Linked DNA regions of Homo sapiens: region 1 is linked to region 2. Evidence: fine-mapped expression QTL. A gene starts in region 2. The other region holds a variant in brackets. All regions are shown on one strand. Distances are from middle to middle. Region 1 has its middle 46 kb from the start of PHKA2-AS1. Region 2 holds the start of PHKA2 (phosphorylase kinase regulatory subunit alpha 2).

Region 1 (5,378 bases), 140 kb after region 2:
ACATGGAGAAACCCCATCTCTACTAAAATACAAAATTAGCTGGGCATATGTAGAAAGAAATAGACATAAGAGACTCCATTTTGTTCTGTACTAAGAAAAATTCTTCTGACTTGAGATGCTGTTAATCTGTAACCCTACCCCCAACCCTGTGCTCGCAGAAACATGTGCTGTGTCGACTTAAGGTTTAATGGATTTAGGGCTATGCAGGATGTGCTTTGTTAAACAAATGCTTGAAGGCAGCACGCTTGTTAAAAGTCACCACCACTCCCTACTCTCAAGTACCCAGGGACACAAACACTGCGGAAGGCCGCAGGGACCTCTGCCTAGGAAAGCCAGGTATTGTCCAAGGTTTCTCCCCATGTGATAGTCTGAAATATGGCCTCGTGGGAAGGGAAAGACCTGACCGTCCACCAGCCTGACACCCGTAAAGGGTCTGTGCTGAGAAGGATTAGTAAAAGAGGAAGGCCTCTTTGCAGTTGAGATAAGAGGAAGGCATCTGTCTCCTGCTCGTCCCTGGGCAATGGAATGTCTCGGTGTAAAACCCGATTGTATGTTCCATCTACTGAGACAGGAGAAAACCGCCTTAAGGCTGGAGGTGAGACATGCTGGCGGCAATACCGCTCTTTAATGCACCAGATATGTTTATGTATGTGCACATCAAAGCACAGCACATTTTCTAACTTTGTTTATGACACAGAGACATTTGTTCACATGTTTTCCTGCTGACCCTCTCCCCACTATTACCCTATTGTCCTGCCACATCCCCCTCTCCGAGATGGTAGAGATAATGATCAATAAATACTGAGGGAACTCAGAGACTGGTGCCTGTGCGGGTCCTCCGTATGCTGAGCACCGGTCCCCTGGGCCCACTTTTCTTTCTCTATACTTTGTCTCTGTGTCTCTTTCTTTTCTCAGTCTCTCGCCCCACCCGACGAGAAACGCCCACAGGTGCGGAGGGGCAGGCCACCCCTTCAGGCGTGGTGGCGCATGCCTGTAGTCCCAGCTACTCGGGAGGCTGAGGCAGGAGAATCGCTTGAACTGGGGGGGCGGAGGTTGTGGTGAGCCAAGATCACGCCATTGTACTACAGCCTAGGCAACAAGAGCGAAACTCCATCTCAAAACAAACAAACTAACAACAACAACAAAAAACCCAGCAATCACTTATTTGGACTGTGAAAGGGAAGTATCTTGGGTCCCCAAAATCACTAAGCTAGGAACTGCTTAGGGAAAACGTGCCTCCCATTCTATTCAAAGTCATCCCTCTGCTCACTGAAATAAATGCATATGTGATTGCCTCCTTTGGAAAGGCTGATCAGAAACTCAAAAGAATGCAATCGTTTGTCTCTAGCCTACCTGTGATGTAGAAGCCCCCTCCTCTCTTCGAGTTGTCCCCTTTCTGGACCAAACCAATATTCATCTTACATGTGTTGATCGATGTCTCATGTCTCCCTAAAATGTGTAAAACCAAGCTGTGCTCTGACCACCTTGGGCACATGTCATCAGGACCTCCTGGGGGTGTGTCATGGGCACGTGCCCTCAATCTCGGCAAAATAAACTTTCTAAATTAACTGAGACCTGTCTCAAATTTTGGGGGTTCATAAGACCATAACTTTGTACATCAGCAATTTGGGCTAGCTTCAACTGTGCAGTTCTTCTGGCCTGGATGGGTTCAGGTAATCTCAGCTGAACTCATTCATGCATCTTCAGTTGGCTGGTGGGTTAGCTGGGGCTGGCTACTTTATGATGAATTTAATTGGGATGACTAGGCCTTCCTCCAGAGGCCTGAGTTTGTTTAGTTGGAAGTGGTCCTAAACCATCAAAGGTGATAGTTTCCGTGACAGGGATAATTAATCAATTTATACTGAATATTTGGATTTAAATCTACCATATTACTGTTTGGCTTATCTCTTCTATATTCTTTTTCCCTTTTGACTTCTTTTTAAAATTGTTATTATTCCATCTCTCTATAGATTGGAAATTATATACCTTTACTATTTTTTTAAACCAGTTATTCTAGAGATTACAACATGCATTCTTGACATCACAATCTAATGTTAATTGTTGCTTTGACCGTGTTTTTAGACAATAAAAAGACCTTAGAACCCTTTAACTCCATTTATTCTCTCATCAACTTATGTACTAACTATTGTTATCATTTAGTCTCTGTAATTTTACTCTTATTTTAACTCTTATAAGAGGTTATTATTCATTTAGATTTTACTCACACATTTACCATTTCAATGCTCTTGAGTCCTTCGAGCACTTCTGATCTTCCATATAGGCTCATAGAAGCACATCCAAATAGAGAGAGGTGGTGGGGGTAGGACTTGAGAAGGATCAGTAGTGCCTTGTAAGGCAACTAATTCAGGGGAGGCCATTACAGGTCCTCCAGGCCCCAAAAGGGGAAAAGTACCCTCCTCAGGCAGGGATGGCAGGGCTGCTTCTCCAGGAAAGGAAAATAAGAATCAAAATCTGCTGGTGGGTCCTGGAAACAGTAAACTAGAGGTTCCTCTTCAAAGACTTTCCTCCCCATCTAATTAGGAATAAATAGTAACTTCTCTTAGAAGCAAAATTTATTCAAAGACCTGTGCTAACATTCTTAAATATCTGCTAGCCGTAATAAAGAAATCAATGTACTTTATGTTCTTAGCTTCCACAATTTAGCCTAAATATTTGCCCTGGCATGCTTATACTGGCCCAAGCAAGCATTAGGTCATATCCTGTTCCTCTTCCTTATTTGAAGGTGTTTTTACCTTTCTCAGCATTCCACAAGTTACTTCCTCCTTCCTTTGTTCTCCTCTGCCTTTC[C/A]CTCTTTTAGAAAGTTCTAAGTTGCAGGCCGGGCGTTGTGGCTCGCGCCTGTAATCCCAGCACTTTGGGAGGCTGAGGCGGGCAGATCACAAGGTCAGGAGATTGAGACCATTCTGGCTAACACAGTGAAACCCTGTCTCTACTAAAAATACAAAAAAATTAGCCACGTATGGTGGCATGCGCCTGTAGTCCCAGCTACTCGGGAGGCTGAGGCAGGAGAATCACTTGAACCCAGGAGGCGGAGACTGGGGTAAGCCAAGATTGTGCCACTGCACTCCAGCCTGGGTTACAGAGCGAGACTCCGTCTCAAAAACAAAAAAAAAAACACACACACAAAAAAGTTTAAGTTGCTAGCCAGTCAGGACAAATACAGAATTTGAGGTCCCATTCCAGCCAATGGAAACCAGACACAGCAGTAGGGTGGACACGTCAGGTTAAATGACCCTGTCTCCTCTGTTCGGTGTACTCTTACAGCAAAATTGCTGGCGAGTGTACCCTTTCTGCAGAAAGTGAAAAAATGGCCTTGCTGAGGAAATTAAATTTATGTTCAAGTGCTGGTTGTTTACGGCACCGGGGAACAAGCATTTCTAACCGGTCTCCATTCCAATTTTCAGGCTGCCATTCCTTCCCAATCATTGTCCTTTCAGCAACATACCCTAAGAGGTTGGGAGTTCAATTTGTATTGTCATTCAAGCATTCACAGGATTAGACTTCGGGTTTGGCTTTCAGAAATCTAAGCCTTGTGGCTATAGGAGATAAGAGTTTCTTTCCTGGTAGTTTTAGAAACATTCAGGTCCTTTATGTAGACCTTGAGCTGATCACTTTCTTTACCCAAGTTCTTCAGTAAACAACCAACCAACCAACCCTATTATACTCATCCTTTTGACTAAAATGTTAAAAGTAGCAAATACTTGTTCTCCTAGAGGTTTGCCTTCTATAGGTACTTGATCGCAAGTATCTGAAGGTGATAATTTGAGTAACTATTTTGCCACTTCACACTGTGGAGTACAAGTACCTCTTTAGCACTGGAAACAGGGCTACTCGTACCTTTAAATCAAATCAGAGTAGGGAACCAATTTCAGAAAACCCAGAACCAATTCAGAGCACTTATCTTTAAGATTCTGTTCTTCTGGAACTACTCTCAGTACCAAATTCTGTGTCAGTCTGGGTTCAACCAGAGGCAGAACCAGAAGAAGATACAGATAGGTAGGTAGGCAGATAGGTGATTGATGATTTATAGGTAGATAACCAGTAGAAACCAGATGTGGTCTCCATATCTGATGCTGGAGCTCAAAGTCTACAGGGCAGGTAGTCAGGAAGGAAGATCACGAGCAGGCTAAAACCCACAAGCACAAGCTGGCACCCCACAAAAATGAACTGAAGCCTGTGTCCTTTCTTACCATCTCTGACCTTGGTCATCGAGTTGCCCTGCAGAAGCCAAGGCTTTCGGTCATGGAGCTAAACACATGTACACAGCCCAGAAATCAGAGAAGCTGATAGGATCCAGGGGTAGGTAGAGCAATTGCAGGCCTAGCTACTGTTTCACACCAATGAGGTGAATCTGCAGATCAGCCACAGCATGTGTAAGCTGCAAAATAGCAACTCCTTTCCTTTTACCTCCCAAATCTCCTGGCCCACCCTAACCAGAAACATACAAGAGAGGGAATTCTGAGAAAGGTAGTTCAGCCTAGCCAAACTGACACAATTACAAAGCCATCACTTTCTTTAATGGTTATATGTCTCTTCAGACACTCCTTTTGTTCTTGAGTTATATTTTTCCATAGAAAATAGTCCATGGGGCCGGGCGTGGTGGCTCACGGCAACATTACAATTTAAAGATCTTACTTGGCTTTGTGATTCTAGAATCAGGCAACACTTCATTCCATAAAATTAGAGTAAGTGTTCCAATGAGTTGAGCAGAGGAGGTTGGTATGGACAGAGAAAAGCTGAAGAAAGCAAAGCGGAACCAAAGAGTGAAAGCAGATTGGTCTCCTCCAAGTTACTTTCCTTGTAAGGTAGAAACAGAGAAACAGAACACTAGACAAATAACTGATTGGAATTGATTGGTTAACACCAGGTTACTTCAGATTACATTTTCTTTTCCTTACTTTTTTTTTTCCTGTTTTTTTGTTTGGCGGGGGGACGGAGTTTTGCCCAGGCTGGAGTACAGTGGCATGAACTCAGCTCACTGCAACCTCCGCCTCCTGGGTTCAAGTGATTCTCCTGCCTCAGCCTCCTGAGTAGCTGGGATTACAGTGCCTGCCACCATGCCTGGCTAACTTTGTATTTTTAGTAGAGATGGGGTTTCACCATGTGTTGCCCAGGCTGGTCTCAAACTCCTGACCTCAAGTGATCCACCGGCCTCGGCCTCCCAAAATGCTGGGATTACAGGCATGAGCCACCGTGCCCGGCCAGTTTCAGATTACTTTTTGTTTTAAGGATTAAAGGCAGAGGGAACTTCATTATCACTTGGGTGGAAATTGGCCCATTTGGGAAATGAGGCTGTTTCACTATCCTGATTTTTTGGAAGGCCAGCTAACAACTCATTTTTGGTTTGGTGATGTGGCACT
Region 2 (5,313 bases):
ATCTTGGCTCACTGCACTCTCCACTTCCTGGGTTCAAGCAATTCTCCTGCCTCAGCCTCTCGAGTAGCTGAGATTACAGGCACCTGCCACCATGCCCAGCTAATTTTTGTATTTTTTGTAGAGATAGGGTTTCACCATATTGGCCAGGCTGGTCTTGAACTCCTGACCTCAAGTGATCCACCAGCCTCAGCCTTCCAAAGTGCTGGGATTACAGGTGTGAGCCACTGCGCCTGGCCAGTATATACTGCTTTCTTTTCATGTTAGTCTCCAGGTACAGCATCAAGAAGTCAGAGCAGGCAAAAATGGAATATATGTTCTTTTAGAATATATTCTTTTAAATATATTTAATAAATATATTCCTCACTGTGAAGAAATCTTATGTTCCCTGGTGTTTCCTCTCTTTATCTCTTAGCCTCAAACGAGCTACAGGAAGCTGGAGCAGAGACAAATTCAACATTCTTTAAAATGTAACGAAAAAATGATTTCCAGTCAACTAAATTATCATAGAAATAACTAAATTTGGTGAATTGGTCATTTTCAGCAAATTCATTCAGAATTGACCTTCTGGGTCAAAGATGGAGTGATTTTCTTTAGAGCCAAAGACCTGAACCCTACAAGAGAAACATTTATTGGTTTCCACCTTGGATGTTAACATGGGGCTCTCTGGAAACTACCTGGGCTGAAGTCTCTGTGGCAGGATGATGGCAGATCCTCTGGCTGGGGTCAGAAAAATCATACATGGTGCTACCCCAGGGTCCAGTTCTGGGTCTTCATTTTTATGGAGATCATGAATCAGCTTCAGAAACAATAACATTCCCTATCATTATACTATATCTGATTCTTGACAAATATTTGAGAAATGACTTGGAGACAAGTTTCTATTGGTGATAACCAGAGAATGGCTTCATGGATATGGGGACCAAGATATGGAGGTTTTGCACCTCAGGGATATGAGGATACTAAAATGTGAGACTGATTTATTATATAGTACAGCTTTCTGGTCCAAAATGAATCACTAAAATTTGCTTTAAAAATTTAAAAGCTAAAACGGAGTAGCCTTCCTTCTTGGTTTTATCCCAGAATTTTGAGCTTATTGAAGAACATAGCTTATATATTGCTATGCAATCGCATAGACCAAAGCCGAAGAATGTAGATTGCCTATACACCAAAAGGGGTGCAAATGTGCACAGCAGAATTAGCGAAGAATGAAGTCAGGAAACTGAAAATGTTTCTATACTAGGTGGAAATGCCAGATAAGGAGCAAAGATCATCAGTTATTTCCCATATGGCTGCAAAATCAACTCCTAAGGAAGGACCCAATGGAAACAAAAGCCACAATGAAAAGAAGCAATGATCCCAGCTTTTAGATGGAGATGAATACATGAAAATTCTAGCAAGAGTACATATTCAGATTCCAAAACATTTAGTGGTGATAACAATGTCTAGTTTTATTCACCCCTAGACCACAGCAAATTCTTCATGGAGGCACATCACATGGATCACTGCATAATTCAAAAGCCAATATTAAGAAAACAAAGTATTATATGAAGTAATATGTGAGCTGATGTGGGGTTTGGTGCTTTAGTTGAGTGACAGAGTAAAGCCATAGATTTATGTTCTGGAATATCTAATATAAACTTGGTTAAGGACCAAACATAAGGGAACGCAGCTAAGCAGGACTGATTTCATTTACTCATGCGAGCAACATTAATTGAGCTCCAACTATATGCTCAACACTGTACCAGGCATAGTAGGAGATACCAAAAGACTGTTTCAATGAATAACGTACATTCCAATTAGGAAAATATGCCTCATCCACACATGAAAACATAAATAACAACAGGAGGCAATACATTGTGGCCAAGTGACAACGAAATTAGCTATGATTTATTAAGTATTTTTCTACTAGCCAGGCTTGTGCTAAATGCTTTATATTCATCCTCTTGATCTTAAGTCATCCTGTGAGGTAGGTGCTATGATTATCTCCATTTTACAGATGAGAACACTTAAGTTCAAACATGTAAAACGGGATGCCAAAGGTCATACGACTTGTAAATGACAGAACTGACATTTGAACTCAAAATGAACTGACTCTAAGTCCTAAGCTCTTACTAAACCAATGGCTACAGAAATTCAGAAAATGGGGAAGGCTAATAGAGGAGCTGAGCTGGCCGTTAAGGGAAAGATAGGCTTCAGTTAGTCAAGGAGGAGGAAGAAGGGCCGAAGGGGTCAAGCATAGAGTAAATGCATGGAGACTGGAAAAGAGCTTGCGGAAATTGATTGCATTAGTCTAGCTGTCCAGTAAATTCCTATGTGGGCCAGATTTTGGTGGACAATGAATACCAGGCCGAAGATTGTGAACTGTAGGTTATCAGCAGCCACGAAACATTATAATGAATGCCAAGTTTCAAGCTGTAGACCCGTGGGAGATGAACTGCGAACCTGCCCGAGGAAGCGGCGCCCAAGTGGCTAGGGGCGGGGTCACAGGCGCCAGAGGTGTCGCTGGGGCACCTCTCCGGGCCTTCCCCCTTTTTCTTCCGGGCTGGGTCCCGCTACTCCAGTTCCGCTAGGCGGCGGAGACGGGGCCAGAGGTGGGACTACAATCTTGGCCCTCAGAGGGGTGCCCAGGCGGCCGCGGTAGGCGGCCCTCTTTCTCCGGCCTCGAGTGGGACTGGCACCCGTCTCGGGGGGCTCCACACTACCACGCAGGAAAGCCAACTCGTCCGCCGCCCGAAGCCGGGTTCCCCTAGACTCCCACGGGCCGCCTCCTTTTTCGTCCCCCCCGAGGCCGCGACTCTGAGGGTTCCGCTCTGCGGCGGAGGTGGGGCCAGGGGCGGGGATGTGGGCGGGGCCGTGAGGTCGTTCCAGGGCGCGGGGCGGGGCCGCCCCCTTACCTGTGCCCCTCAGGGTTCCAAACGTTCCACTCCGCGGCAGGGGCGGGGGCGAGTCCGGAGGGCGGGTCCAAGGCGCCCAGGTGGCCGCGGCAGAAGGGCCTGTTTCTCTGGCCTTGGCTGTGGTTGGCAGCCGGCCGGGGAGAGAAGGGACTCAGGGAGGCAACCTGGTTCCCGCCCGTTGCTGATTTCGCAGCGGCTCTCCCGGGCCGCCCCCTTTTCCTTCCTCCTCAGGCCGCGACTTGGAGGGTTCCGCTCCGCGGCGGGGGCAGAGCCAGGGGCGGGGCTGAGCGCGGCCTGGGCGATCTCCCCGGCGGCTGGGGTGGGCTGGCGTCTTCTTCGCGCCCGGGGGACCTCCTCGCGACCGCCGGGACGTAAAAGGGGCTTGGCAGGGGCGTCCTCGCCCCACTCCCGGAACCTGGTTTCCCGCTGCTCCCGCGAGCGTCGGGAGCCCAGCAGGCCTGGCCGAGGCGGGACCTTCGTCGCTCCAGCCCCCGTCCCCGCCCCCGCGCCTCCCCGCCGCGCGGAGCTCTGGTTGGCTTGCTTTCCAACCGGACTTTGGGGCTAGCGTTTAGAAAAGTCTCGACCTCCTCCGGCCCGGTCCCATCCCAAGAACCGACTAAGGCTGTGAGTGTCCGGGAACCAGACCCGCTTGGAGGCCACAGCCCCGACGTCCCGCGCCCACGCGGCAGATCGGGCGCTGCGGCCTGGGAGCCTCGGGGAGATGCGGAGCAGGAGCAATTCCGGGGTCCGCTTGGACGGGTACGCGCGGCTGGTGCAGCAAACCATCCTGTGTTACCAGGTAAGGAGGGACCGCCCCCAGGGAACGCGTGGAACTACCCTCTCATGTAACTCATTCTCCTTCCCAGGTCTGGCCCTCTTGTGACCTGAGACCTTGCAATTAAGAGTTTGCTATTTGAATCTAGTCCTTGCTAGCCAGTGATTACCACCCCATTGCCACCCCGTGCTCCTTAAGATTCAGGGGACCTAACTGTTGCTACGGCTACTTTTCACAGAATTCTTTGGCCATTGTTCAGGATGAGAATGAGCCGCCTCCGTGCCCGGGTCCAAACTGCCTCTTTTTGCATTGACTCTGCTTTTTTTGGACGAGAAGAGGTGTGGGGGGTTTGGACAGACTACACTGAATGAGAACAGTAGACAGGAGTGAAGAAGCTCCTGAAGTTTACGCAGGACTCTGCAGTGTGGGGCGACAGCTACCGTCCCTCCCATGAGCTGTCTTGGTAGAGACCCACCTGGGAAGCCCTTAGGGGCTACTTTGGTTGCTATTTTACAGATAAGAAAATTGTGAGGCTAGAAAGGTCACTGCATGTAGCAGGTCAGACCCAAAGGCTCCCAAGCTCACAGGGTCCTATGACACTGCCCATGTGGTCCGAGGTATGAATTTGCCTGCTATGCTTTGTATTCCTGGGCTAAAATTATGTGTGGGTCCATCAGTGTAAGACCACTGAACTATTTTTATTCCTAGTGAAGACAGCAGCTATGTTTCTTGCCCTCAATCAACAGCAACTATTTATAGGGCCTTCAAAGTCAACGAAGGAAGTGGCATTCAGGGGTTAGAGGCCTGACCTGCAAGTTGGGAGCCATGGTCATTTCCAAGGCACTGACCATTTTCCCTTCTTAACTAATTTCTTAGCCTTGTTTCCTCACTTAGGAAATATTTGTGGTGTATCTGTTATATGCAAAGCACTCTACAAAGTGCTGGGGTTACAAGAATAAATGATCGTAGTGCAGTAACATTTATGCATAAGGTATAGGTCCAAAGTCCCTTAATCTGTTTTCTTTGTTGTTGTTTGTTTGTTTTTGAGACAGGGTCTCACTCTGTCTCCTAGGCTGGAGTGCAGTGGCGCGATCTCGGCTCACTGAAACCTCTGCCTCTCGGGTTCAAGCGATTATCCTGCCTCAGCCTCCCGAGTAGCTGGGACTACAGGCGTGCGCCACCACACCCAGCTAATTTTTGCATTTTTAGTAGTGACGGGGTTTCACTGCGTTGGCCAGGCTGGTCTCGACCTCCTGACTTCAAGTCATCCTCTCACCACGGCCTCCCAAAAGTGCTGGGATTACAGGCATGAGCCACTGCACCTGGCCTCAGAGTCCATTATCTGAAACCCTTTGGACCAGTTGTGGTTTGCCCATCAGAAATGTTTGGCTTTTAGAAAGGTAATATGCGTACAACGTACTATATATACCATAATAACTGCAGCCAGATCTGGGCAGCACCCCTTCATCAAACAGGTTATTACTTCCACATCAGAATATGAATATTCACATAATTTCAGTAAAGGCTGAAAAGAGTTTCATATTAGTTCGGCTCATCTTTTGCCACCAAAAGAGCTTGCTGCAAACTTACGAAAACACTTTAAATTTTCAGAGCTTACTGGCTTTTGAGATTGCACATGAAGGA

Evidence for each region. PIP is the estimated chance that this variant, and not a neighbour inherited with it, causes the effect.
Region 1: its variant is the best candidate, but not a certain one, in a credible set for the expression of PHKA2 in whole blood (TOPMed, PIP 0.71).

Annotation. Positions count from the first base shown.
Region 1 is chrX:18,842,086-18,847,463 of GRCh38, reverse strand. No RefSeq gene overlaps it. Among named protein-coding and RNA genes, the nearest start is that of PHKA2-AS1, 46 kb to the left of the region's middle. The variant C/A (reference allele first, on the strand shown) is at 2,809.
Region 2 is chrX:18,982,235-18,987,547 of GRCh38, reverse strand. PHKA2 (phosphorylase kinase regulatory subunit alpha 2) reads left to right here and starts at 3,434. Exons shown (of 33, transcript NM_000292.3): 1 at 3,434-3,693. The coding sequence starts at 3,616. RefSeq lists enhancers at 2,600-2,649, 2,631-3,131, 3,132-3,632 and a silencer at 2,750-3,439.